2 linked regions of the Homo sapiens genome follow. The protein of the gene in region 1 interacts with the protein of each later gene in a pairwise test. Each region holds a gene or a part of one and is shown in the gene's direction. Other genes may lie near its edges.

What was found. The genes of interacting proteins can lie anywhere in the genome.
Region 2: the proteins of MGAT5B (region 1) and SMUG1 interact in a two-hybrid assay, tested with the Homo sapiens proteins (one large-scale study listed by BioGRID).

Annotation. Positions count from the first base shown.
Region 1 is NC_000017.11:76,901,966-76,907,023, forward strand, and holds part of MGAT5B (alpha-1,6-mannosylglycoprotein 6-beta-N-acetylglucosaminyltransferase B), read left to right. Parts: intron 1-589; coding exon 590-705; intron 706-1,337; coding exon 1,338-1,411; intron 1,412-2,286; coding exon 2,287-2,457; intron 2,458-3,203; coding exon 3,204-3,368; intron 3,369-4,052; coding exon 4,053-4,222; intron 4,223-5,058. UniProt on the Homo sapiens protein: Glycosyltransferase that acts on alpha-linked mannose of N-glycans and O-mannosyl glycans.
Region 2 is NC_000012.12:54,182,926-54,185,985, reverse strand, and holds part of SMUG1 (single-strand selective monofunctional uracil DNA glycosylase), read left to right. Parts: intron 1-2,026; 5' UTR 2,027-2,045; coding exon 2,046-2,330; intron 2,331-3,060.

The DNA of each region.
Region 1 (5,058 bases):
GTGCAGATATGGGCACACGTGCCATTGTGGGCACACATGCAGATGTGGGCACATGTACAGTTGTGGCCACACATGCAAATATGATTACATGTGCAGTTATGGGTATGTGTGCAGTTGTGGGCGCACATGCAGTTGTGGGCACGTGTGCATATGTGGGGACATGTGCAGATGTGGGCACCTGTACAGTTGTGGGCACACGTGCAGTTGTGGCCACATGAAGACATGTTCTCTGACTGCTCAGGGAAGGTGGACATGAGGCCTGGGGCCGAGGGGTGGGGGATGTCCACTAAAGGGCTCTCTGCAGATATGATCACACATGCAGTTGTGGGCACAACATGCAGTTGTGACCAACATGTGCAGATATGGGCTTTCCCGTATGTCTGTAATGTGTGTACTGGATGGGGTGGGCTGCCAGCTCCATCTTCTCACCCGATTCACTCCCCACCATTTGGTCTGCTTGGGGTCAGGGTTTGGGAGCCTGGGGCATTGCAGAGCCTGCCGCCTTTGCCTGTGGGCCTTACTGGCAGGACCCTCATGGGAAGGTCACCCCGGCCGGTTCTGTGGCTCACCTCTGGCTTTTCCCACTTAGGATGCCCCCTGGGGCCGGCCTCATGGAGCGGATCCAGGCTATTGCCCAGAACGTCTCCGACATCGCTGTGAAGGTGGACCAGATCCTGCGCCACAGTCTGCTCCTGCACAGCAAGGGTGGGTGCCAGGGGGCGGGGGTACCCTCTACCCCTAGGGGGCCAATGAACTGGGTGCTGGGTGGGCCCTGGGAGGGTGGGACACTTGGGGTGTGGCCGACTTCTCCTGACAGCAGCTCTGCTGGCTCTTCGGGGCCCCAGTTTAGGCTTTCAGCAGGACAACTGGGGGTTCACTCCCTCGACCCGGCAGGAGGGCGCTGAGGACAGAGGAGGTCCCTGGAGTCTCAGCTTCTGGGGTCCACAGTTCCAGGAGTGAGGCCACCTGGGGAAGGGTCCCTCGGCGGCCCCTCCAGTCCCTGTGATGTGGGGAGCAGCGAGCTGGGGGCTGCAAACCTCATTTCTGCCTCCTCAGAAAACGCTGGGGATGCTTTCGGGTGGGTGCATGAGGTCTGCCCATCCAGGCAGCTGCTGAGTGGCTGTTCGCACCAGCTCCTCACTGCATCTGAACCCCCTGAGGAGGCCGGGGGCAACCTAGGCCCGGGTTGACCTTGTGGGTGGGTTGTGCGGCTGATGAGCTTTAAGGTGGGAAAGCCTGGCAGCGGATTGTGTGGGAAGCTGCCTCCCGCACGCAGGCCTCCCTCCCTGGGCTCCTCCTTGGACCAGGGACTTCAGCAAGGTGACCTCTCCCTACAGTGTCAGAAGGCCGGCGGGACCAGTGTGAGGCACCCAGTGACCCCAAGTTCCCTGACTGCTCAGGGAAGGTGGAGGTGAGGCCTGGGGCTGAGGGGTGGGGATGTCTACAGCTAGGGCCTCTCTGTCTGGCCCTGGCCCCTCACCCAGGCACAAGCTGGCAGAGGCCAACCTCAGGGAAACAGCTTCTCTGCTCAGTGCATCCACCCCACCCATCAATCCAAATCCCCCAGAAAGAGTCTCCCTCAGGTGTCGGTGCTTTCTCACAGCAAATGATTAAATCTCCAAGTGTCACCGCCAGCAGCCGGATTCCCCCAGAGACTCAGAGGAGTGGCCCTGGCTGCCCTGTCCCTGCTCCTCCTGGCCCAGCCAACAGCTGGACGGAGAGTCTTCCTGCCCCATTTCTGGGGCCACCACTGGCTGCATGAAGTCTGCCCTTGTAGGAGTCGTCCACAGCCGTGAAGTCAGCTCCCCACTGGTTCTGAACGCCCTAAGGGGTGGGCGGTGGTGCCGCAGACCCCTTCCTTGGTGACCATCTGGGATCACTGCAGGTGGATCCCGCCCTGGCTCCAGCCCTGGCCGCCTTGGAGGCTGCTCCCTGACCTTGGCCTCTAGCCCAATCCTGCTCTGGTAGCAGGGAGACGGGGACCAGAGGGAGAGGGAGACAGCCAGGCCTCCTGGCTCTTTGCCCCAGACCTTTGAGCCAGTGTTCTCTCCCAGTCTCTCCTCTTTCCAGACATGAGGGCTGGTGGTCCTGCCCCTGCCATCTCTGGGGTCCTTCAGGCGGGTCCTGGTTCAATCTCTTCTCTGCCCTGTCCCCTGTTGCATCAGTAGGGTGGGCCACATGGGCCCCATCCTTGACCTCAGGACCCCTGGGGGTGCACGTGCGGGGGAGTCCCCGAGGGTCAGTGGGGCTGGCGCAGCCCCCTGCCCAGCCTGGCCCTCTCTGCAGTGGATGCGTGCCCGCTGGACCTCTGACCCCTGCTACGCCTTCTTTGGGGTGGACGGCACCGAGTGCTCCTTCCTCATCTACCTCAGTGAGGTCGAGTGGTTCTGCCCCCCGCTGCCCTGGAGGAACCAGACGGCTGCCCAGAGGGCACCCAAGCCCCTCCCCAAAGTCCAGGTGGGCCTGGGAGGTGGGTGGGCCGGTGAGGGGCTGGTGTGGCTGGACATTCTTAAGGACAGTGGACAGAAACCTCTGTCCTGAGGGAATGAGACTGAGCTGCTTGCCAGGTGTGTGGGCAGGTCCGAGCCCACCCTACCGGGCAGACGGGAGGCCAGCCTGCCAAGGCCTGTCTGCCTTCTTTGAGATGCCACCAAGCTGGGCCTGTTTGCAGGGCAGGTGGGGGGCCTGGAGATGCCCCCTTAGTGGACTAGAATAGTAGTAATAGCAGCTGTCACTTATTGAGGGTTTTCTGTGTCCAGATGCTTTATTTGCACTTAAAGTTCCCAGCCATCCTTGTATGATCGTATTTGACAGACGATGCATCTGAGGTTTACAATTGAATTAATGGGTTCGAGGCGCATAGTTGCTGTGGTGGCCACGTCTGTCCCCTGCCATCGGAGTCCTGGCTATGACCACCACCCTCACTGCCTCCCTGTCATGGCTGGGAACCTGGAAACTGCTATGGTTGGCCACCTCCGTGGAAGGGCTAGGGGCCCATGGTTAGAGCTGGGCTGGGGAGGGTGTGTTGACAGGGCGGGCAGGGCTCCCTGGTTTTGGGGGCTAATGAGCCCCTTAGAAAGTGCAGGAGAAGCTGGAGCAGGCCCCAGCCTCATGGGAGGGTGCCAGCCCCTGTCCCCAGGCCAGCGGGGAATGATGGTGGCCGCAGGTTGAGGGGCAGAGAGCTGAGGTCTGGACCCCTCCAGGCAGTTTTCCGAAGCAACCTGTCCCACCTTCTGGACCTGATGGGCAGCGGGAAGGAGTCCCTGATCTTCATGAAGAAGCGGACCAAGAGGCTCACAGCCCAGTGGGCGCTGGCTGCCCAGCGCCTGGCACAGAAGCTGGGGGCCACCCAGAGGGACCAGAAGCAGGTGCGTGGCCCCTGCCCCCTCATGTGCAGGAGCTGAGAAAGCTCAGGGCCCCCACTTCTGAGTGGGCATGGAATAGGTCTTCAAACAAGCTGTAGTGGGCTTCTGAATTTGATCAGAGGGAGAGAGGGGTAGGGATGGCAGAGTCGGGATAGATGTCTGTGGTGGTGGCCCCTGGCCCTTTTCAAGGTTGGGACCAAATGACAAGCCCCCAAGAGGTCCTGCATTCTGTGTACATCTGGTTCATGTCAGGCAGAAAAGTCATGGTATTGGCCTGGAAAGTTGGGAATGTTCTGGGGAGCTTCGTTAGCTCATGCCTCCATTCTTCCTTCCCTCCTTCCTTCCCTCCCTCCCTCCCTCCACCCAGTAGATATTTACGTGGCTCTCACATTGCCCTTTTATTTCTTTCAGAGCCCTTATCATTTCATGAAATTATCTCTTGTCTGTGTTCACTGTTGTCTACCTCTTCCATCTGGAACATTAGCTCCATGAGGGCAAGCACGTGACTATCTTGTTCGCCCGTGTCCCCAGTGCCCGATCTGGTCACTCTGGTGCCGGAAAGCACCTGCTGGGGCCCAGCCTGGAGACAGGGTCTGCTGCCGGCTGGTCTCCTGGCCGGTGCCCCGGGGGGGCGGGGCTCAGAGCTGCTGCTCCTCTCTGCTGACCCTCTGTGTTCCGCCCACCCAGATCCTGGTCCACATCGGCTTCCTGACGGAGGAGTCCGGGGACGTGTTCAGCCCTCGGGTCCTGAAGGGCGGGCCCCTAGGGGAGATGGTGCAGTGGGCGGACATTCTGACTGCACTCTATGTCCTGGGCCATGGCCTGCGGGTCACAGTCTCCCTGAAGGAGCTGCAGAGGTGAGTGCTGGGGAAAGCCACTGGCATTAAGTGGGGCAGGGAGGGGATGAAGGGGAACCCCACCCCTCCCTCCCAGGGGCTGTGGGAGCACCTGCTCTGCCTGCAGGTCCCACGGCCCTGAGACCCTGGGAGACATCCTGGTGTTCCGCAGGACATCACCACTCCTAATCCCCCTCCTCCTGCCCGGTCTTGGGGGATGTGGCAGGGAAGTGTATTTGCATAGCGCTGTCTGGCCAGGGCCTGGCTCCTTCTCTGGTGTTTCTGCTCAGGGGCTGACACGTGTTGGCTTGTGGAATTGAGCCACGTCTGCACGTGGGGTCCCCTCTGCCTGCCGTCCTGGAAGGCTTGGTTTCTCTTCTGAACCTGGGCTCCTTCTTGGGTCTACTTTAGGGTCTGGAGACCAGTAAGACATGGAGGATGAAGGGGCGTGGTTGGGTGGGTGGTGCCTGTCCCTTACCCAGTGCTGGGCTTTTCACGGTCCCTTGGATGCTGTGGGAGGTGGAAGGGCAGTGATTAGAGGCTCCCCTGAGTGTTTGAGGGTAGGATGGGGGTGAGGCTGAGAGTGTGGGGATGTCAAGGGGGTAAGAGTGTGTGATTGGGTTTATTTTTAATCACTGTTTCTGTGGGATGTAGGAATACAGGAGATTCTTCTCTTTATTAATATTTATTGTAAGATATATGATGCATACAAAGTCTATGTAAAGTATGTTGTGAAACACAACAGTCAAATCACCTCCCATGTGTGACCATCCATTTAAGATCATGCTGTCACCAAGGACTCTGGGTTTGCCTGAGAGTGTCTGCCAATCTCTCTGCCTCCTCCCCAGATGAAACCT
Region 2 (3,060 bases), on another chromosome or scaffold:
TGAAGCAATGGCCTTTGCAGTTTACAAAGCTTGCTGTCATGTTCCTGCCCCCTCCCTTCTCCTTCCTCCCACCTCCCTTCTCTCTTCCCTTTCTTCTTCCTCTCCCATTTCTTTTCTCCCTTCACCTAAACATAACATCTCATTCCATCCTTACGTCTGTTTGTTTGTTTTGAGACAGTCTCCCTCTGTAGCCCAGGCTGGAGTGCAGTGGCACAATCTCGGCTCACTGCAACCTCTGCCTCCCAGGTCCTGGTTCAAGCAATTCTCCTGCCTCAGCCTCCCATGTAGCTGGAATTACAGGCACGTGCCACCATGCCCAGCTAATTTTTGTATTTTTAGTTGAGACGGGGTTTCACCATGTTGGCCAGGTTGATCTTGAACTCCTGACCTCGTGATCCACCTGCCTCAGCCTCCCAAAGTACTGGGATTACAGGCATGAGCTGTTGCGCCCGGCAAATTTATTTATTTATTTATTTATTTATTTATTTATTTATTTATTTTTTATTTTATTTTTTTTTGAGATGGAGTCTTGCTCTTTTGCCCAGGCTTGAGTGCAGTGGCACGATCTTGGCTCACTGCAACCTCAGCCTCCCGGGTTCAGGCAGTTCTCCCTGCCTCAGCCTCCCGAGTAGCTGGGATTACAGGTGCCCACCACAACGCCCAGCTAATTTTTTTTTTTTGAGAGAGAGTTTCACTGTTGTTGCCCGTGCTGGAGTGCAATGGCACGATCTTGGCTCACCGCAACCTCCACCTTTCAGGTTCAAATGATTCTGCCTCAGCCTCCAGAGTAGCCGGGATTACAGGCACGTACCACCATGCCTGACTAATTTGTATTTTTAGTAGAGGTGGGAGTTTCTCCATTTTGGTCAGGCTGGTCTCGAACTCCCGACCTCAGGTGATCTGCCCACCTCAGCCTCCTAAAGTGCTGGGATTACAGGCTTGAGCCACCACGCCCAGCATGCCCAGCTAATTTTTGTAATTTTTAGTAGAGACGGGGTTTCGCCATGTTGGCCAGGCCAGTTTTGAACGCCTGACCTAAGGTGATTCAGCCGCCTTGGCCTCCCAAAGTGCTGGGATTACAGGCATGAGCCACCATGCCTGGCCTTCCTTATGTCAACATTATTAAGTGGATATTATTATTCTTTGTATTTGAAGGTGGAAACCTGAGGCTCTGGCCATGGTTGTGTAGCTCGTAAGATTCTATGAGGAGTCTGTAATCATCCTACTCGGTATTCCTGAGTGTGGGAAAGAAGCTAGGCTGGGGTTAGGGGGTTGTAGAATTAGCAGGGTGGCTGATCAAACCATCTAAGGCAAGATGGCGTGGGTGGTTAAAGCATAGCCTTGAGCCAGAGAGATTGGGCTCAACCAAATCCAGCTTTATTACTTACTAACTGTAAGACCTTGGGCAAGTTGCTTAATCTTGCTAAGCCTCAGTGTCCTCACTTATAACAGGGGAGCAGTAATACCCACCTCATGGGATTGTTGTGAGGATCAATGAGGTGTACCTGGTGCAGAGCAGTCGCTCACCACCTGGAAGCTATTGTAATTAGCCTTCCCAGGTCTCTGGGCTGTGGCTGTGCACTTGCATTTCATTCTTCAGCGCCGTGCTTTCCAGAACAGTCCATTCTGGCTGGGCTTTTCTTTTTTAGGATGACCTTAAAGGTGCTGAAAGGATGCCACCAGTAAATGTTTATTGAAAACCTACTATGTGCTCGGCATAGCCCAGGAACTAGTGACCTATGCCTGATGGAAAGGAGATTTGGAGTGGGAGATGTTTGGTGGCTATGGCTTATCCTCACCAGGTGCCATGTGAAGAGGACAGATAATGGAAGTGGGGAGGGAAAGGGCCCTTCATTACCAAGAACTGAGATGAGTTCAGTCCTACTTGGTGGTTGGTAGATGACTGACATGGTCTCTTAGGGTCCCTTCTGAGCCCAGGAAATGGTAGTGGGGGCCCTGGCAAGCATGGATCCCTCCTACTCTGTGGCTGAGGGTTGATGGGGCTTCTGTCCATCTCTTTTCCCAGGTGACAGCGGCATGGACATATGCCCCAGGCTTTCCTGCTGGGGTCCATCCATGAGCCTGCAGGTGCCCTCATGGAGCCCCAGCCCTGCCCTGGAAGCTTGGCTGAGAGCTTCCTGGAGGAGGAGCTTCGGCTCAATGCTGAGCTGAGCCAGCTGCAGTTTTCGGAGCCTGTGGGCATCATCTACAATCCCGTGGAGTATGCATGGGAGCCACATCGCAACTACGTGACTCGCTACTGCCAGGGCCCCAAGGAAGTACTCTTCCTGGGCATGAACCCTGGACCTTTTGGCATGGCCCAGACTGGGGTAAAGGGTTTGGCTTCCCCAGTGGGTGGAGTGGGGGGTTCTAGGTGGATGCTTGGCTGGGTGTGCTGTGGAGAAGGAGCATGTGCATGGCTGTAGACATGTGTAGGTCCTCCCGCCCCATTCTGTCTCAACACATATACTGGCTCCTGTGGTCCGAGGCCCTCTCCCAGCGTCTCTGCCCGTAATTAACCAAGCACATTAATGGTAGTTTCGTTTTCCCTGTGAGCTGGCCAGTAATTGCCTCTGAGAGCCCTTCCTTCCGCCAGCCCCATCCTTACTTTACTGGATCTCCCCTGTCCCTGAAGTGTGGTTGGGGTCAGAAGAGGGACTAGGACTGCTGGGTCCTCAGAAGAGACTGGTTGACAGGGGTGGGTATGTAAGAGATGCAGGGCGTTCTGGGAACCTGGGTTCTGTTTCCTAGCTAAGGCGAGGTTCAAAACAGAGCCTGGCTCCAGTGCCTGCCCGCTTTTCTTTCAGGGCTCAGGATGAGTGACTGCCCCCAGTGGGGGTGCTTGGCAGGTGGGGGAGGGGAAGAGGCTTCAGGGCAGAAGGCTCAATCGCTTTTATTGACCCCAACTGGGTGATGAAAGGTGATCAATGATGATCGATGGAAATGACAGCCTGAGGCTTGGGGCTGAGAGGGCATCCAGACAGCAGTGGTCAGCCCATCCTTGTGCCTCCTTTAACCCTGGCTGCCTTTCTGTCTCAGACCATCTGTCTGTCCCCAGTA